Linked DNA regions of Homo sapiens: regions 2 and 3 are each linked to region 1. Evidence: fine-mapped expression QTL. A gene starts in region 1. Each other region holds a variant in brackets. All regions are shown on one strand. Distances are between the middles of the regions.

What was found.
Region 2: its variant is fine-mapped to the expression of MPZL2 in whole blood (Lepik 2017, PIP 0.95).
Region 3: its variant is fine-mapped to the expression of MPZL2 in whole blood (INTERVAL, PIP above 0.99).

The regions. Positions count from the first base shown.
Region 1 is chr11:118,259,133-118,267,404 of GRCh38, forward strand. MPZL2 (myelin protein zero like 2) reads right to left here and starts at 5,165. Exons shown (of 6, transcript NM_005797.4): 1 at 4,964-5,165; 2 at 3,799-3,965; 3 at 3,306-3,516; 4 at 922-1,069. The coding sequence starts at 5,021. RefSeq lists an enhancer at 4,917-4,966.
Region 2 is chr11:118,466,111-118,474,110 of GRCh38, forward strand. KMT2A (lysine methyltransferase 2A) reads left to right here. Exons shown (of 36, transcript NM_001197104.2): 2 at 2,665-2,734; 3 at 5,552-8,000. Among named protein-coding and RNA genes, the nearest start is that of KMT2A, 34 kb to the left of the region's middle. The variant T/C (reference allele first, on the strand shown) is at 4,328.
Region 3 is chr11:118,157,160-118,165,431 of GRCh38, forward strand. It overlaps SCN2B (sodium voltage-gated channel beta subunit 2), which reads right to left. Exons shown (of 4, transcript NM_004588.5): 4 at 5,647-8,272. Among named protein-coding and RNA genes, the nearest start is that of SCN4B, 8.5 kb to the left of the region's middle. The variant G/A (reference allele first, on the strand shown) is at 4,560.

The sequences.
Region 1 (8,272 bases):
ACTAAACAGAGTTACCATAAGACCCAACAATTCCACTTTTAGGAGAATTAAAAACATATGATCTACACAAAAGCTTGTAAATGAATGTTTATAGCAGCATTAGTCACAACAGCCAACAAGCAGAAAAAACCTAAATGCCCATCAATTGAATGGACAAACAATATGTGGTATATTCATACAATGGAATATTATGCAGTCATAAAAAGGAAAGAAATACTAATACATCAACAAGGATGAGCCTTGAAAGCATTATGCTAAGTGAAAGAAGCTGGGCATAAAAGACCACATATTGTATGATTCTATTTAAATGAAATGTCCAGAATAAGCAAATCCATAGAGACAGAAAGTAGATGAGTAGTTGTCGGGGGCTGGTAGGAGGGGATAATAGGGAGTGATAGCTAGGGATATGGGGTTTCTTTACGGGAGGGAGCTTAAAAACGTTCTGCAATTAGTGATGATTGCTGCACAACTTTGTGAAAATGAAAAAGGTAAATTTTATGGTGGGTAAATTTTATCTCAATTTTAAAATACATTTAATGAACACCTGCTATCAGCACAACAGACTTTCCTAAGCCCTGACTCATAGTGGCCCTGCTGACTGCCTAGCCCAGTGGTTTTTACAAATGTATGCTTCACTTTAAACATAAGGGATTTTTTAGAAAAGCTTTACATAGCACATTTTTGTAAAATCAACCCCCCCACATAGTAAAGAAATCCCATAAGGAAATATTTTGTAAAATTAAGAAAGCTTTTGTAAAGTTACTAGTTCATACCTGATTTATCTGTCCTGCAAATGTGAATTCTTTTATATAGGATTTACTTAAAGGGAAAAACATCTGTTCAGCAACTATTTAGCCCACTGCAAAATACCAAGAGTCGCCATAAGAGTGTTAGAACTTTCCCAGAACTGCCCAGCCTTACGATTTTATCTCCACCACTTTATGAGCTCTTTCGGCCCATCGCTTTTTCCGGTAATGCTGGAAGAGGACCACTACAATTACTATTATGATCATCAGTGCACAGGCAGAGCCAATGGCCAGAGCCAGGAAGTGGATCTCAGAGAAGCGTACTGTAAGGAGAAAAAGATTAAATTAGGATTCTAAAAAGAAGAGGACTACAATGAAATCTAATGACATAATAGGGATGCATTTAATCAATAGATGGAATCTTCCTTTATCCTACCTTTATGCATAAAATAATATATTACCTTGTGAATCCTACTAGCAATAGGAAAACCATACACATACTTTAATGGTTCTCAAAGTGTGGTCTTCGAAGTAACAGCAACAATATCACTTGAGAACATGGAAATCTTAGGCCCCACCCCAGACCTACTGAATTAGAAACACTAGAGGTGCGGCTGAGCAATCTGTGTCTTAACAGGTCCTCCAGGTGATTCTGATGCAGCTTTGAAAACCACTGGGTGGGTTGAACTACTTATGGGGTAAGGTTTTTGCTAACCTCATCAAACGTAGTGCCCAACCCATTTCTCCCTGACTTCTCACCACTTTCACTCAGTCAGTTATTTATTCAGATTTATTAAGGGCCTACTACATTCCTGGCACTGTGATAGAAATGCTGAGCCAAAAAAGACATCACCTTCAAGGAGCTCATGCCACTGAGAGGATAGGAAAGTAAATCAGAAGCTACAGTCTAGTGGATAAATGATGGAAAAGGGAAACCAGAGGGAAGGTCCCCTAAGCCACACTAGAGTCTGTGAACCCTGGTTTTCTTGTCCTTTAGCTTTATTTCTGATTATACTTCCATAAGCCCTCAGAGCCAGAAAGGACATTAGAGAATGTCTAGCCCAGGATTCCCAGCCTTGACTCCATGAAGGAGGATGGGGAAGAGGATGGAAGGTAGTCTGCAAGCCCACAGAATCCAAGTCTCATTTTGTATGTCTCCACTGTTTTATGGGAAGCAGGGCCATGGCTTTTATTTGATTCTCAAAGAATAATTATCCACATATATTTAAGAACCACTGATTTTTTGTGTGTTTAACCTCTTCATTGTGCAGATGAAGAAACTGAGGTCCAAAACCATTACATTATTTCTTTCAATACTCAAATGACTTCTGCAAGGTCACACAGCCCTCTATTGGTGGGGCATTGAGAAATGGTTTTAAACTGTACTATGAATGAAAGGAAATCGTACCACTGCACAGGCTTATATGTTTGGAGTAGTGTTGGTTAAGAGCACACACCAGAGAGCACTAGGTTGAAATACTTAGCTGTGTGATTTGAAGTAATTAACTTCTTTGAGCCTCAGTTTCCTCATGTATAAACAGAGATAATGATATTCATTTCTTGAGTTCTTAATAAAAAATAAAATAATTCATGTAAGTTGTTCCTTGCTGTGCCTGTACAAAATAAACACTCAATGTATGGTAGCTGTTAAGTACAATTCAGAGGTTGGGACATATTCACATTTATTATCTCATTTTATCCTCACTGTGATCCTTACTGTGTTATTCTCACTTTACAGATGAGGAAAATAAGACTTATTGATAGCTGGTAAATGGTAGCAATGACTCAAACCCAGATCTACAATTCATAAGTTTCGTGTACTTTGCTCTTTGTTGCTTGGCATGGTTTTCCAGATTGTCCTTTATAGGGATGCAGACAATACAATGCACCAATTTAGAGCACAGTTTTAGATTCAAAGTTGATTGGGTTTGAGTCCTAAGTTACTCCATTTATCAGCTACGTGACTCAGGGCAAATGACTTAACCTCTGTGAGCCTCGTTTCCTCATTGGCAAGATGGGAGGCATTAAATGCACAATAAACTGATGAGATATGTAAAGATTAAATAAAATGTGTCATGTAAAGCCCCTGACATTTGGGAAGTACTCAGTAAGTGTTAGCTCCCATCATTAGTACCTGCCTCCTAGAGTGGTGTGGGGATTCAATGAGATAGTGTATGTCATGCACTTTTGACGGTGCCTAGCATTAGAGTAGGTACTCAATAAGTATCTCGAATAAATGAGTGAGTGAACAGACCTGTTGTAAGCCTTTCATCAAAGAATTGCTCCCTCTCCCTTTCACAATCTCAATGCCATTTTTGTAACGGATTCTCTGAGTTCCTTTGCTTTACTTTCTGTTTCTTTCCACAGCCAAACAAAGCCTTTCTCTTTTTACCCCAGAACTCTTCGGTCTCCCTCTGAGGCTCCCAGTTCTGAAGGGCTAGTCCCTCTCTCTATCCATCACAAAAGATTGTCCCTCTCTCTCAGCCTTAACAAAGATTGCCCCTTTCTTTTCTACAAGCTCTCATCCTTTCCAAAACCACTGTTCCCTGCATAACCTACCAGTGTGCACGACGCTGAGCCGGATCTCCCCTATCACCCCATCAACATCAGGTGGGTTCTTCACCTGGCAGGTGTATGTCCCATTGTCGTCGAACTGCAGTTTCCAGAGAAGGATGGAGGCATCGTACCGCTCAGGATTCCCATCCCAAGACACCCGGTCCTTAAACCGCCCACTCATGGGTTGGAAGGGATCTATGTGGTAGTAGAATACCTAGAGAGGGGAAATGGCAAAAGGTCTTCTTACTCAGCACCCAGGCAAGGAGGCCAAGATGGTGGGAGCGGAAGTGAAACACCAGCAAACCCAACTGTCCTGTCTGCAGCTCTGTCACTTGCTTTCCCCTTCAACGGCCTCTCAGTCTCTGTCCCAAGAATTGTTTCCGAGCTTAACCTTGTGCTTGCTGCTAAGAAAAATACTGGAAGGGAAAGGAGAAATGGACTGGCTTATTATTTCCCTAAACAAGAGTACCCTGGAAAATGATGATAATCTACTTACAAACTGCTCAGGTCCCCCGTCTAGAGGACGAAAATTCCAGGTCACTGTTAGAGCATCACCCACAGGGGCAAAGCTGGAGAAAGTGCATTTTAACCGAGCATCTGTCCCATTAACAGCCTCCAGCACCCGGGAGGTATAAATTTCCACAGCTGCTATAGGCCAAAGAGCTGCAATGAAAAAGAAGAAAAAGAAGGGTTAACAGGGGATGTAGTATTGTGAGAACTTCTGCTGACACTTCCAAAATAAATATCTGAGTAGGACTTAAAGTAAAGTGAAACTGAGATGCCCCATCTCCCAAACTTACTTCACCCAGAATCTACATACTCCTACCTGTATGCAGCCTGGACCCTCCCATTCCATGTGACAACTAAACTACCACACAGCAAGCCTTCGCAGTGCTTTTACTTTCTCCACAGCATTAAAGCCTCGCCTCGTGGTACTGACTTCAAAACTGTTATAACAAACTACAAACATCCGCAAATAGAATTGAAAGCATAAACAAAAAATTAAAATGAATCATAACATTGATTAGACATTACATTATGTATTAAGGTTAAGCATTATGTGTTGTATGTAAAGTGGTCTCCTAGCAGGTAAGTTTTCCAGATGGGTCCTTAGGTGGATTTCATACTGTTACTAGTCTATTGCAGAAACTGAATTAATCAACTCCAGACAGCTTATGTTTGCCTGCACCCCTAGAACCTTTGTACCACGTGGCATTTTTTTAAACTTGATATTTACATTTAGAATGTGTGTGTTGGGGCACTTTCAAAATCACAGTAGGTCTCTCTCTAACAATCTCCACTTTCCTGGTGTTGCTGAGAGTCACAGACAAGACCCACACACAGAAATCCAAATGCCAAGTCCTGCCAGCAGTGGGAGGTTGAGAACAGCCACACACAAAAAAATGGCATGTAACCTGAGATTAGAAAGCCCTCTCTGTGCCTGAATCACTGGCAGCTGAACACACCTAAACCTGTTTGTCCGAGAGCAGTTCTCCAAAAACAGTCCACCAACTTTGGTTTCAGTAAAACCCAAAGTAAAACAAACTGTATCTGTGGCTCAGGCTCCCAAACAAAAGTCTTGCAACTTCTAAGACAATTAGCTAACTTTATAGAGTGAGCAGTGAAGGAGGAAACTCTGAGAGAAGCCCGCCGGCTCTTACCTGTGAGCTGTATGCCAAGGAGAAGAAGCACCGCACGAGTAGAGCTCTTGCCATACATGAGGGAAACCCAGCCTTGGCCCCAGAGACCGGACGGGGCAGACCGAGGGCTCCAACACCCTGCCAAGGCCACTCCGGGAGGAGCAAGCACCGCGTTTTCCCAGAGAGAGGAGTTTGAGTTGAGTTCCTCACCTGTGCCTGTGACTCAGCCCGCTCTGCCTGTGCACTTTTCTGAAATGAAAGGTGGGGCCTCAGCTCCCAATGCCCTCCTTCCTTTCCTCTCTCCCGCCCTCTACACGAACGAGCATGAGCACGTCTGCACAAAGGTCCCAAACTCCCGCAGTCCTCTCTTTACTTTCAGTTAATCTGACTGGGCTCTGGCCTCTAGATGGCCTCGGAAACAGCCAGAGGAGGTGGTGCCAGTCTGAAATGTCCCAGACTGTTATGGGTTTGGCCCCCACACGCCCTTTTAAAACAGGCTTTAGGCTTGCCTGGGAAGTGAATGTTGAAACTGTCCTGCAGTGATTCCACTTCTCAAAGCACCACCCCAGGGCCACATTCACTTGGGACTGGATTCGATACAATTTCAAAACGGGAGTCGGAATTCCTTAGGACCCTCTGTGGACAAAAAGCTGATACCCCTGTTACCACAAGGATTCCTGCACTTCTTCTAGTTTGTAGCTTTCCAGGAGACCTGGCAGAAACAACAAATCAAATCTCCATGCTTAACAATCCTTTACCTTTGAAGACTTTAAAAACAAATGAGGACACCATCCCTGCTCATTCACCCTGCCATCCGAGTGCAATCTACAAAGTGCTCTCCTGCTGATTGTTTCATCTCCATTAACGCCCTTGTGAAGCATTCCCATTCTACCAGTGAGGACGCTAAGAACCCGAGGAAGGTAAATGATTTGCCCAAGGTTGCACAGCTACCATGTGGCAAAACCAGAACTTTTCTTAAAAATCTAGCGTTCTTTCCACCAAATAACAGCTAATATGAACAATCAGACATGGGGCTCTCAAGGAAAAGGTTTTCATGATAACTTTGTTGTGCCTCGGATTTCATCTGTCATTTTTTGAATAGCTAAATGACTGAGAAGTCTAAAGAGCTGAGGAATCTAAACGAGAAAAGATGCCTCCTTGTCTGGAAAGAGGGTGGGTCATCTTTACAGATTAATGAAGCGGCACAGAAACATCGGTAGGAGGGGGATGAAGATTACACATGCAGTTAAGAAGTAGGCTGGGCTGGGAATCTAACCCTGAAAAAAGACAGATTGCGTTTATCCCTGGATTAGCAGTCTAGAAACTCTTCAGTCACTCATAAAATCTTCTAGCTGAATCCAGAGCAGAAAGGGTGGCAGGAACAAGAGAAGGCGGCAGGCTGAGTAGAAAAAAATAAAACATCATAAAGAGGGAAGAAAAGAGAAAATTCTACCAAAAGAGAGGAGAATGCAGAAGTGCAGAAAACAGAAAGCAACAGGAGAAAGATGACATGGGCATGGAGCAAAAACAGGTAGACAACCACAAAAATCCATTGTGTTGGAACTCAGAAAGCAGAGGTGGCCCCAAATGCAGACCAGCTGTGTGCTAGTGAAAATCTGTTGCATGGTGAGAGTTTCTGAAAACTGTGTGGCGTCTTTGTCAGATTCTAGTTCAGAAAGGGACCTAAAATCAGTCTGCTGGGGGAACCTTTCAGATGTTGGTGAGGAAGGATAAGATACAGCCTTTCTGGTATGTAGGTCAGAAGAGTTCAGCTCCAGGACCCTGAAAGAAAAAGAGTTAAGGAAACTTGATCTTGGTTGGCTTCCAACTTTGCAGGGAAATACAGCTACAGAGGAAGGAGAGGTAGAGCCAGGATTTTGAAGTCTACAGCAAATTGCAAAAACTGGTGAGAGGTAGAGTTACCAAAGAGCTCAGGGATGCAGTGAAAAGCAACAGGAGAAGAATCAGGGCAGGAAGAACTGAACAAACTGCCTGTTGTCAGGAGCAGAAATCCCTCCCCCAGGTAGCCAAACACCCATGAGCTGGTTGCCAGCCTTGCTCTGAGGGGCAGGAGTTATCCAGATCCCACTTCTCAGCTGAGTTCAAGTTCCTGGCTTAGTGCCTGGCAACGCCCAGTTCCTTCCAGTTAGCAGGAGTGGCTCCACAGTCAACCACTTCACCTCACTGGGCAAGGAAGAGGCCAAGGGTAGAAGGTTAAGAAGAGAAAATGCTAAATAAAAAGGATGTTTGCCCCTCACAGTTTTCTGGACACCAGTCAGCAGGACTTAGACCAAAACTGCAGGCATCTACATAAGGCCTAAGTTATGTTTGTGCCCAGGCAAATGGAAGGAAAGGAAGAGGAGTTCTGGAAATTGAAAAGAAGAAAAGTAAAGTTTTCAGAGACACCATTTTCTTTCTAAACTTTTCCAGAGAAAGATCCTGATTGTCATTTAAAATTGTGACATACCAATAGTTTTTGAAAGAATCTCATCTGTCCCATCCATCTACACATTTCCCAAAAAATGATTTCTAGTGAGTATCTAGACCTTAGCCAGCAGGAGACTCACTGGGGGCTCAGGAGACAGAAGGGACAGTGGGCCTGTATCAATATTTGTAAAAGTTGTCTTTCTCAACCTCCTAGGCAAAAATCTTTTTTTCACCTAAGGTGAAATTAGCATTCTGTGAAGCAAGGAAAACAAATAATTTAGCTCTTAGGGTCATCAAATAAAGCATTCGTTTACTCAAAAGTGTCTGTTCATATGTTTTTACTAGAAAAAATTCAGACATACATAGAATATTTCTACCTGGGAGGAAATAATATAAGATAGGAAGGTGAAGTAAACAAATAATTATCACTTTCTTGATTTTTAAATTCAATCCTTAAAGGATGAATAGGAATTCTGGAAAGAGGATAAACAAAGTCCTTCCCATTGGAACAAATGGGTGGGAATGTGGTACCCACAGGGACTAGCATGCAATTCCTCAAACCTGGAGCACAGGGAGGAGTGGCAGGCCAGGTGAGAGGCTAGGTCCACCTGGGCAGTGCCCTCATCCACCATCCTAAGGAGTGTGGACTTGATCCTAACAAATATACCCATTGGGGATGGCTAATATGTGACCCAAGAAGAGCATCCCTAGAAGTAGAATTACTTTGGTATTTCCCAGAACCATTAAAAACAAGAAGGAAAGTCTTGGGACACCAACGACCACTTACTCTCCTGGCTTTCGTTTGGGCTCCTGGCTTATGAGCCAGAATGAAAGTGTAGACCTAACATCTGTTTTCCAAAGACTCAGGGACTCCCAGCCTTCCCCAACCAACAACTCCAATCT
Region 2 (8,000 bases), 210 kb after region 1:
CACTTGAGCCCAGAAGTTTGAGACCAGCCTGGGCAACATAGTGAGACCCCGTCTCTGTAAATAATTTTAAAATTAGCTGAGTGCTGGTACATGCCTGTAGTCCCAGCTGCCCAGGAGGCTAAGGCAGGAGCATTGCTAGAGCCCAGGAGTTTGAGGCTGCAGTGAGCCGTGATCACACCACTGCAGTACAGCCTGAGTGACAGAGTGAGCACTGGCAAATTTTAAAATTTTCTGTAAAGACTCACTATGTTGCCCAGGCTAGCCTTGAACTCCTGGCCTCAAGCAGTCCTCCCATATTGGCCTCTCAAGGCGCTGGGATTACAGGTATGAGCTACTGTGCTGGCCAAGAGAGAATTTTTCTTATTCACAAATAATGTTCACAGTAAGAATTTACTTAAAATTTTTTTAAAGTAAAAAGAACTGGCTGGGCACAGTGGCTCACGCCTGTAAATCCCAGCACTTTGGGAAGCCAAGGTGGGTGGATCACTTGAGGCCAGGAGTTCAAGACCAGCCTGGCCAACATTGCAAAAGCCCATCTCTACTAAAAATACAAAATTAGCCAGGTGTGGTGGCACACGCCTGTAATTCCAGCTACTTGGGAGGGTGAGGTATGAGAATCTCTTGAACCTGGGAGGCTGAGGTGGCGCCATTGTACTCCAGCCTGGGCGACAGAGCAAGACTCTGCCTCAAAAAAAACAAAACAAAACAAAACAAAAACAACAAAAAACCAACAAAAAAAGAACTTACGTGTAAGAATTTAAATTAGTGATGAAAGAAGAAACTGTAAAAAGTACTCCAGTAAGCCAGGCATAGTGGTGCATGTATGTAGTCCGAGCTATGCAGGAGGCTGAGGCAGGAGTATCACTTGAGACCAGGAATTAAAGACCAGCCTGAGCAAAATATGTAATTAAAAAAAAAATTACTGTAGTCTGTGTTCCTTAAATTTAGGTTTCATACATTCTTAGAATTATAATACTTTTTCATGGCTGGGCACAGTGGTGCATGCCTGTAATCCCAGCACTTTGGGAGGCCGAGGTGGGCAGATCACTTGAGGTCAGGAGTTTGAGACCAACCTGCCCAACATGGTAAAACCCTGTCTCTACTAAAAATACAAAAATGAGCTGAGCATGGTGACAAGGGCCTCTAGTCTTAGCTATTCAGGAGGCTGAGGCAAGAGAATCGCTTGAACCCAGGAGGCGGAGGTTGCAGTGAGCTGAGATCGCGCCACTGCACTCCAGCCTGGGTGACAGAGCAAGACTCCGTCTCAAAAAAAAAAAAAAAATTATAATACTTTTTCAGATGTCTTTGAAGAGGAGAATTTCAGCCTTTTCTTAAATAGTCCAATACTTTAATCTTAGCAATCTCAGAGCAAAAGCCTTTTTAGATGCCAGTAAGACTTTTCTCTCAGTTGCCTAGTATGCAAAGGCTGGGCCTTAAATGTTTTGCTCCTCTAAAGCATTTAAATTTAAGAGATGAACCTGCTAATTTGTCCTAAAAGTTATATATGTCTTTTAATATAGTCATGGCTGAAAAATGGCTAAGACAGTTAGCACCTGACTCTAGTTTTAAATTAACTGAGAAAATAATCCTTCAGAAAATCATTGATGTTGTCCACATACATGTGTTCTTACCTCTCGAGAGGAAAATGTTAATGCTTTTGTCATTGGAACTCAGTTTGGGACTTACCACTATAAATTGGAGGTTCCAGAATGTCTGTTCTTCATTCCTTATTTTGTTCTTGTTTTATGTGGATTTTGTTTCTGGAATCTGAAATTCTATCATTCTGTGTCTGTCTCTGGAAAGAACTCAATCTCTGAATCATTGAATTTCTATTAATCAGTTTGTTTAAATAGACCATCTTTCTTGAGAACTTGTGCAAAATAGGTTAAACAAATCCTTTTTTTTTTTATAGAGCAGGTTAAAATTAGAGGTAAGCAGAAGCTTTTGCTTTTTGTCCTTTCCAACTATAACTGAAAATAGGATGCTTCCCTAAGTTTTAGTAAAGGATTTCATCCTATATGCAGTCAATTCATGATCCCTTTCACAAACGCTGCTGCCCACCATTAAGTCTCTTATCACAGGCATTTTTAAAATTATACCATAAAATGCATGTTGAGACTCTCTGGATCTCAAATGTACAGAAATCACATCTAAATGTCAATTCCTGAGTTAAGGAACTGACAATTATGGCACTTTCAGTCTCTATTAATATTTAGAAGGCAAGAGATTATTATATTGTTTATATTACTCCTTATGTGTCTGTAGACTTAAATACTTTTTGAAAAGCATTTGTTTGTTGTATTGGGGCTGTATGTTTCTGCCATTATACTTATTTGCTTACCTGATTTAAAGTTGTCCTTTAATTGTTTTGGGCTGTATCTATAGTTTGAAATTAGGACTATCCTCTGTGTACTATGCACCAAAGATGACATTTCAATGCATTGTTCAGTTACTACACAGCTCCTATTTGTCTGTAATAAAGCTGTATGGCTGGGTCCATTTATTTCAATATTAGTTATTTTATAGTATCCATTGGAATGATGATAATTAATATATAAAGGCAACTTTTCCAAATTCATTTGTGTCTCCTCTGGGCATTTCTTTGGGATGTGTTTGTATGCACGTTTTTGCTTCTGATTTTAAAATAATTTTCCTTTGTTGTAGGATGAGCAATTCTTAGGTTTTGGCTCAGATGAAGAAGTCAGAGTGCGAAGTCCCACAAGGTCTCCTTCAGGTACGGCCAATTAAGTGCATGGTGCCTTTTAAGTTTTGTTTGTTAGGAGATTGTGGCTTCCTCTTGCCTTCTTTACATGTAAAGGATGCTCTACCATACTTGGGTTAGGAAATGGCTGATGAGCTAGACTTCTTTTTATTTATTTATTTATTTATTATTGTTATACTTTAAGTTTTAGGGTACATGTGCACAATGTGCAAGTTAGTTACATATGTATACATGTGCCATGCTGGTGCGCTGCACCCACTAACTCGTCATCTAGCATTAGGTATATCTCCCAATGCTATCCCTCCCCCCTCCCCCCAGCTAGACTTCTTTATGGGACTCTTATCTATCAGGCCACATTGGGTTTATTCTTTCTCTCTGGGAACTACTTGGGGCATGGGAAGTAGGTTTCCACAGAATTACTGGGAAATCTGGTAGGCAAAGTGAAGGTAACCTAGTAAGAGTATCCTCAGATTTACACATTTTGTGTTATGTGGTAGTGTATATGTCTTTGGGAATAATTTGGCCATTATTTTTTTTGGATGAAATTTGGTCCACTATTGTCAAAGAACCAAAAACAAAATATTGGCATTATGTGAAACATTTTTACCTGATTCTTGAAAGGCTGTATTAAAATAAAAAAATGGAAAATTAGCAATATTTGTCATTATTCTCACCAACAAAATATCTAGAATATCTTGAAATTCTAGACTTACAAGCAGTTTCCTAAGAGAAGACCCTCAATGGAAATAACATTTAATGGCTTGCCTAATTCAGTTCTGTATAGGAGAAAGCTATGTATCTTTTGATGAAAATGCATTCCCCATCTGTGCTGCCATTCTGACTTCATATATGGTTTTCTTTGATTTTATGTGGATAGACACTCCAGCTAAATATGATATTGTTAGCTGTTTCTGCTTTTTGACATTGACTTAGCTTGTGATGTGTGCTAGCATTAGGGTCTCACTTAAGAGTCATCATATATTATCATCTAATTCAAACATCCAAGTTGACAGTTTTTCTTTTCTTAAAGAGGAGTGGTATTGTCATTCTAGTTGGGGGCAGTTGGCCAGTAGTGTCCCAGTATCTGTGCTATTCAGACAGTAGCAGTGTTCTCTTTAACATGTGATGAAGTCTTAAAACTTCATATAGGAAAGGAATTAGAGAGATCATCTGGGATTTTTGTTTGTTTGTTTATAGATGAAAAAATGAGGTCCATGAAATACATGAGTAATGATTTATAACCAGTTTGAGAGTTCTTTGGATATGTTGTGGATCAGGGAAGTTAGCAGCAGTGCTGGGACTCTTCTCTGTTCTGCTGCTTCTACTTATCTACCAAAAGAGTTTTTTAAAAAGTAGGATAGAAGAGGTTTTCAGAATTGATAAAGCCCTCTGATTGGCCAGGTTCAAGTCTACCACAATGGTAAGGAATCTTTTGATGTATTTCCGGGCAGGAGTTGTTTTGTTTGTTTGTTGTTTTTGTTTTTGTTTTTGAGACGGAGTCTCACTCTGTCACCCAGGCTCTGGGCAGGAGTTTTATTTTGTTAATTCACAACTTTTTCATGGTAGTTTCCTCTTAAGTTTTTTTTCATGACTACCAGTCTACCT[T/C]GAATGTTGTCTTGTTTTCTAAGAAACCATCTCGATATGCTTCATTATTTGAGAAATGAGACATGGTTTCTCTGCTGTCTCCTAGTTTATTACCTTTGTTGTAATTAGGATATGTTGAGAAAGGAGCTGTGAATCCTTAATCTATTAAAGGAAGTCTCATAAATTAATTGATGAGGAATGCATTTATATTTAGAAAGCTCAACAATAAAACCTTTGTTGACTTCTGTTCTGTTAGCAAGCAGTTCCATTGTAAAAATGTTCATCTCTTTTGGTGCCTATTAAGGGAAGTTTTAGTCTCAGAAGAATGTTATCAAAAGGGAAAAGAAGATTTGATAAAATAGCCTAGTCTTACTACTTTTTAAAATACAGGTTTATACAAGGTGTTTTAGAAACAGTCTTGTTTTCTTGAATGGCTTGAAAAGCAGCAAACTGAGCTTATTTATAAATTGGCAAATTCCTTTTATTTAGAATAGAACTTTGATTTAATAAGTTGTCATTTTGCTGTTGACATCAGTTAAGGTTAAATCTTTTTGCAACTTGAGACTAGCTCAAGAACCTCTAAGCAGGGGAGTAGATTTAGTGGACACATTATGTCACTTCACTGATTAGTTCACATGCCACTGAGTTCAGTGGTCTTATTCTGATGTGTCATAAATGAACATTTTTCTATTCAGTAAAACTTTCTTAGTCTACTTTGGCAAAACAGATTGAAATATGGGACTCTGAGCTGCCCAAGGAGTTGGTATGTTGATGATTGAAGAGCAGCGTATTCAAATTTGTTCAAAGCCAGAATTCTGAATTGAAAAGATGGGATGACTAACTAGAAGCATATTCTTAAATGTTAATCTTGGTGGCTAGGATATGGCGAGGAAGTTCAGATGTTTTTTCTTTACAATTCCTTTGAATTCAGAAAAAACCTTCTTGCTCATCTAAAATTGTAAGAAAATCAGTTTTGTGGATTAATTGTTCAACTGAAAACTTTTTATTATCTTTTTGTATCAAAAAAGTAATTAAATGTTCTTTCAGGTGGAATGTTATTTGCTGACTTCTTTGAGGCAAATTTTGGGTGAAAAGAAACTAAGCACAATTAAGATGTTTGATTGACTCATTAGACTCAAGTTGAACTCAGTACAAAATGGCCAGTGCTAAGTTATATTCAGCTTAGTTAAAACCTAAACTACACAGCTAAATATATGCTCTTCATTGTTTAATTTCTATACACAGTTAAAACTAGTCCTCGAAAACCTCGTGGGAGACCTAGAAGTGGCTCTGACCGAAATTCAGCTATCCTCTCAGATCCATCTGTGTTTTCCCCTCTAAATAAATCAGAGACCAAATCTGGAGATAAGATCAAGAAGAAAGATTCTAAAAGTATAGAAAAGAAGAGAGGAAGACCTCCCACCTTCCCTGGAGTAAAAATCAAAATAACACATGGAAAGGACATTTCAGAGTTACCAAAGGGAAACAAAGAAGATAGCCTGAAAAAAATTAAAAGGACACCTTCTGCTACGTTTCAGCAAGCCACAAAGATTAAAAAATTAAGAGCAGGTAAACTCTCTCCTCTCAAGTCTAAGTTTAAGACAGGGAAGCTTCAAATAGGAAGGAAGGGGGTACAAATTGTACGACGGAGAGGAAGGCCTCCATCAACAGAAAGGATAAAGACCCCTTCGGGTCTCCTCATTAATTCTGAACTGGAAAAGCCCCAGAAAGTCCGGAAAGACAAGGAAGGAACACCTCCACTTACAAAAGAAGATAAGACAGTTGTCAGACAAAGCCCTCGAAGGATTAAGCCAGTTAGGATTATTCCTTCTTCAAAAAGGACAGATGCAACCATTGCTAAGCAACTCTTACAGAGGGCAAAAAAGGGGGCTCAAAAGAAAATTGAAAAAGAAGCAGCTCAGCTGCAGGGAAGAAAGGTGAAGACACAGGTCAAAAATATTCGACAGTTCATCATGCCTGTTGTCAGTGCTATCTCCTCGCGGATCATTAAGACCCCTCGGCGGTTTATAGAGGATGAGGATTATGACCCTCCAATTAAAATTGCCCGATTAGAGTCTACACCGAATAGTAGATTCAGTGCCCCGTCCTGTGGATCTTCTGAAAAATCAAGTGCAGCTTCTCAGCACTCCTCTCAAATGTCTTCAGACTCCTCTCGATCTAGTAGCCCCAGTGTTGATACCTCCACAGACTCTCAGGCTTCTGAGGAGATTCAGGTACTTCCTGAGGAGCGGAGCGATACCCCTGAAGTTCATCCTCCACTGCCCATTTCCCAGTCCCCAGAAAATGAGAGTAATGATAGGAGAAGCAGAAGGTATTCAGTGTCGGAGAGAAGTTTTGGATCTAGAACGACGAAAAAATTATCAACTCTACAAAGTGCCCCCCAGCAGCAGACCTCCTCGTCTCCACCTCCACCTCTGCTGACTCCACCGCCACCACTGCAGCCAGCCTCCAGTATCTCTGACCACACACCTTGGCTTATGCCTCCAACAATCCCCTTAGCATCACCATTTTTGCCTGCTTCCACTGCTCCTATGCAAGGGAAGCGAAAATCTATTTTGCGAGAACCGACATTTAGGTGGACTTCTTTAAAGCATTCTAGGTCAGAGCCACAATACTTTTCCTCAGCAAAGTATGCCAAAGAAGGTCTTATTCGCAAACCAATATTTGATAATTTCCGACCCCCTCCACTAACTCCCGAGGACGTTGGCTTTGCATCTGGTTTTTCTGCATCTGGTACCGCTGCTTCAGCCCGATTGTTTTCGCCACTCCATTCTGGAACAAGGTTTGATATGCACAAAAGGAGCCCTCTTCTGAGAGCTCCAAGATTTACTCCAAGTGAGGCTCACTCTAGAATATTTGAGTCTGTAACCTTGCCTAGTAATCGAACTTCTGCTGGAACATCTTCTTCAGGAGTATCCAATAGAAAAAGGAAAAGAAAAGTGTTTAGTCCTATTCGATCTGAACCAAGATCTCCTTCTCACTCCATGAGGACAAGAAGTGGAAGGCTTAGTAGTTCTGAGCTCTCACCTCTCACCCCCCCGTCTTCTGTCTCTTCCTCGTTAAGCATTTCTGTTAGTCCTCTTGCCACTAGTGCCTTAAACCCAACTTTTACTTTTCCTTCTCATTCCCTGACTCAGTCTGGGGAATCTGCAGAGAAAAATCAGAGACCAAGGAAGCAGACTAGTGCTCCGGCAGAGCCATTTTCATCAAGTAGTCCTACTCCTCTCTTCCCTTGGTTTACCCCAGGCTCTCAGACTGAAAGAGGGAGAAATAAAGACAAGGCCCCCGAGGAGCTGTCCAAAGATCGAGATGCTGACAAGAGCGTGGAGAAGGACAAGAGTAGAGAGAGAGACCGGGAGAGAGAAAAGGAGAATAAGCGGGAGTCAAGGAAAGAGAAAAGGAAAAAGGGATCAGAAATTCAGAGTAGTTCTGCTTTGTATCCTGTGGGTAGGGTTTCCAAAGAGAAGGTTGTTGGTGAAGATGTTGCCACTTCATCTTCTGCCAAAAAAGCAACAGGGCGGAAGAAGTCTTCATCACATGATTCTGGGACTGATATTACTTCTGTGACTCTTGGGGATACAACAGCTGTCAAAACCAAAATACTTATAAAGAAAGGGAGAGGAAATCTGGAAAAAACCAACTTGGACCTCGGCCCAACTGCCCCATCCCTGGA
Region 3 (8,272 bases), 100 kb before region 1:
AATCCTTCTCCCAAGGAGAGTCGATCGCTTCTTCTCACTCCTCTCTGCTTTCTAGGGGCTCTGGGCAGAGGCAGGTAGGCAGCCACCTCCTCAATCCCTCCCTTCCTCTGTTTCTGTTTTCTGCCAGGTTCTGTCCAAACATCCTTTCAGGCTGAGATGGGTAGGGAGCCCCAGACAGATGAGCTCATTGGAAGGAGGAGGGCAGAGGGAGGAGGGAGCCGAAATATCCTGACCAGAGGGATGCTCACCGGCCAGTCCCGAGCTGGAGAGGGTGTGTGCCCACTTCCGGGAGAAGGTATGTGCTGCCCTTGCAGTAGCTCCGAGATGGGGTGAGTCCTGGACATCTCTTTACTATAGGCCACATTGGGGTGGGGTTTGAAGCCCCCGGACAGGGTGTCAACCACCCTACCCAGCACCCCAGAGCTATATTTCTCTCTCTGCTTCATGGATCACCATGGCCCCCTGCCTGCCCATCAAGGGAGGATGGTGGCTCAGGAGGGCTGGGAACTGGAGGCTTTGGGAAGGTTTGTCATTCATTGCAGCCTGCCGCTCACAGGACTGCCTTGTCAGCTGAATAGTCAGATGCCCTCCTGGCCTGGCTTTGAAATGGGCACCTGAGACAGACTGGCCAAGCCAGAAGCACAGCACAGCGCGGAGTACCCGGCAGGACTCCCCAGATGCTCTGGTTTCATGCATTAGGAGCATTTTAATGTGGGAGCAGTGGGTCTTGCAAAGTGAGGGGAGAGGGAGGATGTGGACCTGGAGAGGAAATGCGGCAGAGAAGGTGGGGGGCAGAGGAGAGGAAGAGAGGAGGCCTGGGAGCAGAGGAGAGTCTTCCTGAGTCGAGGGCAACTTAAAGTTGGAATGTGGCTCAGGCTGAAGGGGACGGGTGGGGACAGGGAGACAATTGTTTAGTAGGTGAAGCAGAGGATACACAGGCTTTTGGCAGGAAGGGAGTGGAGCGAGAAGCCAGGGGAGGAGAAGGTGGCCAGCAGATGCTGCAGCTGTTTGCACAGAGCTGTGGGGCCAAGGGCCAGGCCATGTAGGGGTGGGCAGGAGGGGCCCGCCGGGAAAGCGTGGCCTCTGCTCACACTTTTGCCCTTATGCTGTTGTCCATGGTCATTTTAGGGTTGGTTCCAAGCCACCCTTCCCTCACCCACAAGTGTTCGGTCTGCGAGAGCCCAGTTCACTGTCCTTTCTCCTGGTGTCATGTAATGGCTTTGGTTCATCAGGCCTTGAGTGTGAATTTGGCTCTGCTGTTTCCTAGCTGTGCCACCTTGTTTGTACACATACTTATAATACTGCAGAACTTTGTTTCCTCATGTGTAAAAATGAGAAAAGAATGCATTTGGACGGGGCCTTGCCCTAAGGATGAAGTAAGCTGATATACATCAAATACCTAGATCAGCACCAGGCACAGAGTAGGTACTCAGTAAACAGTGGCTCTTCTTATTGATCTAGCCAAGAGTCCCATACCTTCCTCCTTCAATGCCCTTCAAGTTCAAGATGGCCATGAAATCCACCCCTTAGCCCTTCCAGCAGGCTCAGCTCCAGTGGACAGCCTGCACGGGTATGAGCAAGCTATGGGGGGAGTTGAGGGAGATGTTGACAGATTTGGCAAAGCTGGGAGCACTCAGGGATAGGGAGGCAGGGAGGACTTGTATCTTCCATCTACAGTCTTGACTGGAAAGACAGGAGTTTCTGACCTGGCTGGTGGGCCTAGGAAGGCAAGCTAGACTTGGCCTCATCTTTGGAAAGAAGCTCCCCAAGGTCACCTGTCTTCAAATTTCCCACCCTCTCCCAGCGTATTTCTCACTGTACATAGAGGTTCACCCACACCCCCCACGTCCCCACCACTGATAGATCAGATACAGAAGAACCAGGTAAAGCGGTACAGGGGTATAGAGGGGACCTGGGGAAGACCACAACTGAGTAAGAAAGCAGAGGGCCAGACACGTGTGCATGTTTGCCGGTGTATGTGTTATACTTATCTTCAGGCAAGCAAGACTTTTATCCCACTTCTATGATTTGAGTCCTAAAAAGAAGACTGCAGAGGGCCATTATCAGTAGACTTAAAGGCTATCTAAAAGTATGCCCTGATATAGGAACTTTCTCAACAACACCCCTAAGTTATGCTTAAATACCTTCTGGGATGGGGATTTCATTACCTCAAAAACTCGACCCTCTGCACAGCTCTGATTTACACTGGATGAATATCTGTCTCTCCCTGCCAGTCCTAATGTCTTGCCTTGGGACAGAATGGGACAAGTCTAATCCCTGTCCCTGAGGCTACAGCCTGGGCCACTCTATCGGTCAACAGCCACGCTATCGGTCAACTTCCCCTCCTGGCTGAACACACCCTACTCTTCTGCCCATTTGCCCACAGGAAGAACTCTGAATCTGTTGGGGCTAACCGTTCCTAGTCCCTTTGCCACGTGTTTACTGGGAATGTGTCCCACTTGAGAAGCAGAGGCAACTGTGGTTGGGATAGAGGTGACTTTGCCAGGGCCATAGGGGAAAGCCCCTCCCATGGGATCCAAAGTAGCCAAGCTGAATGCCTGGCACCCACTTGCCCTTCCTTCCCCAGCACCTCCTAGACCTGAAGGTCATTATTGCCAGAGAAAAGACAAAGTTGCCATACCAGGCCACCGACTCCCCCATCCCAACTCATCTATTCCCATCACCTCTTCCCCAGGGCCTTGCTCCCTTTTCTCCTAGGCTAGGCTCCACTGACCGCCCCCCACGACATCCATGTGCCGTGTCAGGATGCCAGGATGTGGTTCTCAGCGGGGCTTCCTTCCCCAGGCCCTCCGGAGCCCTCATCCACTGGGCTGCTGGAGCCTGTCCTAAGGAGTAGCTGGCACTCTGGACATCAGCTTGGTAGCAGGCAGCCAGGAGTGACTAAAACATGGTGGGTTTTGGGGTGTGATTCTGTAGGAAGAGTCGGGGGCAGCAGTGCTACCAGGACTTTCTGAGAAGAGTTCCTGCAGAGCCCTTCCCGTGCGGACCTTCTGAGCCCCCAAAGAACCAATGAAGAAGGCCAGGAGACCTAGTAGGGACCTGCCAGTTGTTCTGTGTCCAGTTCTGTGTCCAGTTGCCCAGCCTGCACCCATCAGACACTATCCCAGGCTGCTGTCACCTGAAGATGATTTGATACTACGTTCCACCCTTGCAAGATGGGAGGGAGATAAGTAGCCTAAGAGGGGCCCATATGCAAACTGACATGAGTCACATCATGCTGATGGGGGGTGGGAACAGGACTCTGGGAACTAGTGCCAAAGGACATGAGCCTATTTGCCCAGGGACATCAGCTCAGCCTAGGGAAGGCCTTGACTGGGGGAAGAGAGACTTGGGTTCTATCCCAGGCTCTGTCATTAGCCAACTGTATGACTTTGGGCAAATCACGTTCCCTCTCTGAACCTCAGCTTTGAAAACTGGGCCCTTAAGGAAGCATGAGTGCCTCTTCTGCACCAACTCAGGCCAAGCTGGGGAGGGAAGGGGAGGGGTCTGGGCTGGTGCATGCTGCTGTGTCAAGCACTAGACCCAGCACCTGTGGACTGCAGGAAGAATAGCGGACTTGGAGCCTGCCAGACTCTGTCTGTACTTGACTCATCATGTCGCCTTAAGCATGTCACTTCTCTGTTCTGGTCTTCAGTTTCCCCTTTAGAACAACGAGGGGCCTTGACAGGTATTCCTGGGGGCCCTCCCATCTCTGCTGTTGTAAAGGTCTACTCCGTCACCCCTAATCCTTTTGGCCCAGATTCCTATTCCCTAGCAACCATCCATGGGCAGGCCGATGGCTATCCCACTGGGATACCCCATGCATGGGGTGTCCAGTGGGAACTGGGAAGCTCTTGTACAGGTACCTCCACCTCAATTGAGGGGCACAGGAGACCAATAATTTTGAGCACCAGGGTGGCAACTATCCCTTCCCCCACCAAGGCAGCTTGTTCTGCAATCGAAATTCATCCACCCCGCCCCAGGCAGGCTGGGCCATAGAACCCAAATTTAGGGGAGATGCCTGAACCAAATCCAGCCTTCCCAGAAACCAGGCCCAGTTCGTGACTACCAAGACCCTCTTCCCCAGGGCCTTGCTCCCTTTTCTTTGACCGTAGGAAGAACTCTCAATCTGTTGGGGCAAACTGTTCCTTAATCCCTTTGCCACCTGGTCCCCAAAACCAAGTGTTTGGGGGAGAAGCCCAGTGAGGAAGATGCTGCTGGCCTGGCTGAATATCAGGGGCCTGTGTCCATCCTGGAAGGAACCAGCCAGAATCCCTGGTGCCTTCTGCTGCTCAGTCCGTGTCCCTCGCCCAAATGTTCCTATCTGTTAAGTAGAGAAGCATCCCCCCGCAATACCCCATTCTTGGCAGGACTCAGGCTCCAGGGATAGACATCCTTTTAAACCAAGGGAACTTTGGCTCTGTTGAATACCAGCCACCTTTGTTTAACACTGCCACCTCCAGTCTGACTTCTCTCCCAAGTGGCAGCTGTCATCCTTTAAGCCATTAGAACCACAAATATCAAGGTCCTCTTGGCGTATTCCTAACTACTAACCACTG[G/A]TGAGGGTCTCTGGGTCTCCAGGGAGCAGACAGGAATGAGACAGAAACCAAGAGAAAAGTAGGAACCAACTACCTAAGTATGTCCTTGCCATTCAGCAAGTTGAGGTTTTTCTTGCTGAAAAGGGTTAGCCAGCCCGTCTCTCTTTGCAGTGGTCCTTAGTTAGGAGGAAGACACAGATGGGGGTGGTGGCAGGGTGAGGTTCTGAGAGAGCAGGAGAGGCTGGAGCAGTTGAGAAAGTCAGCAGACTGAAACCACCAGAGCGTGGTGGCCGGAGCATGCAGCCAGAAGTGGGGCTCGAACCCCAGAGTAGGAAGAGGAAGGTAAGCCTGGTAAGCCTCCTAGGCAAGAGAGAGAGAGACAGACAGACAGAGAGAGAGAGAGAGAGAGAGAGAGAGCGGTGCAAGGGAGAGAGGGAGAAATGCAAAGAGACGGAAGAATGAAGAGCAAGGGAGAAAAAAAGGCCTGTCTGGGACAGTGGAGCCCCTAGCCAGGAGGTTGCCCTTGGTCCTAAACTTCTTAGGGCTGCTTTGGCACATATATATAGGATCCAGCAGTATGTAGATGGGACATGAGCCACCTGAACCTTCCCACAGCCACCCTTCTCCATGAACTGCATGAGGGCAGACTCTGACCAGCTGTCATCTATTCTTTCTGAGTCCAGAGGAGGCAAAAGAAATGTCTAATCCAACACCTTTGGGGAACAGAGCAGGAAGGATGGCCTGTCTGCCCATGCAAAGGACAGGCAACATCCGCATGACAGTCAGCCTTGGGAGCTTCCGGGGTTGTCTTCATCCCCAAAATAATCGAGAGCCCTCCAAGAAGTAGGTGTTCAGCCACTCTGTTCCAGGGTGAGCGGAGTCCCCAGGGGGTTGGGGAAGGCAAAGGGATGAAACATCTGTGGGGGCACAAGTGTGGGGTAGACAACCTTCCCCTTGTGAGGCAGGGGCATTGAGGCCCTCAGATGCTGGAGATCTGGCAGCGCCAATGGGATTACCAGGAAAGGAGCACCTAGGGTTCCAGTTAAGATCCTGGTGAAGCATCAGCCTACCCTGCCCTGAACCCCTGAATAAAGCCACACTCGAGGGATTTTCAGGGGAGATAGTTTATTGTTGCCAGTAGACCCAAACAATAAGACAAATTGCAAAAGAAACTCAGTCTGCTCCCAAAAGCAGATACATCCCAGCAGTCGAGTCACAGAGGGCCATCTCAGTTTCTCTCCCCTTCCAACCACCCCTTCCAACCTCTCTATAGCACACACAACCAAGAAAGTGCATATGTAGTTGGGTTTTCCCCTCCAAGTGCACAAAGCGCAAGAACATTCCAAAATTTGCCTTTGGTGAATCAACTCAAAACACTGAGAAGTTATTACACCTCCCCACACACACACAGTGTAACTTTTGGGGTGGGTGTGGTGAGATGTTTGATATTTGTATATATAATATATCTATACCTAGAGAGAGAGACTATGTACAGTGCATCAGCAAGCTTCAATAAAGGAAGACGCCAGCAAGAGGCACAGCAAGAGACACAGGCTGTCCATCTTTAAGACATAAGTAGGAAGGAAGATTTCTTGCTTCATCACCCGTTAACTGCACCAAGCCATTCCTATGGCCTGGAACTATCCTTTTGGACCTGCCCAGTATTTTCAATTGTCTGTCTGCTTAACCTGACCTTGCAAATATTTACCAGCCCAACCTCCCCAAGGAGACTCGCAGAGAGAAACATGGATCCGATCAGCTTTTCCTTTTTATAAACTGGAAATAACTGTGAAGAGTCCATAGCTAGGGGGCAGATAGCTATTTCCAAAGCCAGTTCCAAGGCACCTCAAAGCAGTTCAGTCCTGAATAATTGTGCTTTGTTCTTATAAGCTAAATCCCATGGGTTAGCCAGCCCGTCTCTCTTTGCAGTGGCCCTTAATTAGGAGGAAGAGACAGATGGGGGGTGGGGGCAGAGGGAGGTTCTGAGAGAGCAGGAGAGGCTGGGGCAGTTGAGAAAGTCAGCCGACTAAAACCAGCAGAGCGTGGTGGTGGGAACATGCAACCAGAAGTGGGGCTCGAACCCCACGGTAGGAAGAGGAAGAACTTGTCAGCATAAGTTAGGAAACAGGGTAGGGAAATGGCTGCTGTGGAAACATCTCTCTGGTTTTCCACCTCTACTTACAGAAGCCCCATTTTGCTCCCAACTTCACCATCCTGGGGGAGGCAGCTCTATGAGTCCTCTGGAGGAGATTCTAAGAGGCTCCAGAAGAAAATGCATATGAGGGCTGAGCACCTGGGACAGAGATGGTTCCTGACCCAGCCCCATCTGCTGGGGCCCTGAGGCCCGTGAAGAGACATTGCTTTTCCTGGGCCCCAGTTGATCAGGGCAGAGGAAAAAAAGACTCCAGGAATCTTGGGCTTCTTGATGGAGAGTTAGAACTTCTTAGAATACACTAGGAAAGCCCGCAAATAATTCCCCTAAATGTTATGGATCCTGGAAAAAGATAAGTTCCCAACATCAGCACAGCTCCTCACTCATCCTGGGAGAGAAGGACACTTAAAGGGTGACCAAAAAAATGAAATCTGCAAGCTGCAGAAATGTATACAACCACTCTTGGTCTCAGCTGGCATGAGGTGCCCGCCACCCACCTCTCTGCCCCCAGCTGGCTGGCTCAAGGATGGGCAGCGTCCATCTGCTGCAGGCATCCTGGCGGCTTAGCCCACCCGCATTGGCAGTGTGTTGATTGGCAGTTAGGTACTGAGCTGATGAGTTTAGCATTTCCAGATGGGCTTGACTCGCTCACCTCACCCAGGTGTTACCAGGCTGGTTGCCCATCCCCCACTCTGCACCCACTCTGCCTGGCCTCTGCACCCTTGACCCTGTTGTATTGCCCCTCTTCCCTGCTGTTTCTCCCTTCCCAGGGCACAGATTCTAGAATCTCTTCATCTTCCCCAACTGTAGCCTTGGAAGCAGTGTCTTGCAGAGGTGGAATTAGATGCACCAAAAAGTTAATCTTGGTCCCTACAGTGCCAACCTGGCAGTCCCCAGTGCTTATGGCTTTGTGTATATCCCCAGTGCCCGGCACAGTGCCTGGCACATAATAGATGCTCAATAAATGGTTGCTGAATTGAAGCAAATTAAGCTGAATCTCCCAGATGATATTGCTGTCTCCCCAAATTGGCAATCTGATGGGCAGAGGCAGGGATTGGTCCCTGAGACTGTCACGGTCCTGTCTCCACCCCCTTTCCTAGACTTATTCCCTACCCTGGGCACCTGACTCCTTGAGTAGGGGTGGGGCAGAGCTCCTGGAAAGGCTGGGAAGTGCTGGGGCAGGGAATGGGGCATTTGCCAGCAGCTGTGCCCTTCACACTTGCTCCCTCCCTCCCTGCTTCCCTCCACTCCTCCTCAGTCCTGGCCAGAGGGGCTGGGCTCCTGGGAGGGGGCAGGGCTAGAGAAGCCCACCCCTCCAACTCGCCCCATCATAGACCAGGACACAGAGGCCCCTCCCACTGGGAAAATGATGGCTCTGTTGCTTCAAACTGGAGACTGAGGAGCCAGAGAAGAGGGCAGGACCCTCAGTTTCTGTCAGTTGGAACCTCAGTTTCCCCATTTTAAGTGAGTGACTTGGCTAGTTGATCTCTGAGGATCTTCCAAGGTCATGGTCTCAGAGTCAGTGTTTCTGCCTCTTGCTCCTTCTCTCAGGCCTAATCAATTTCCATTGAATGTGAGTGTA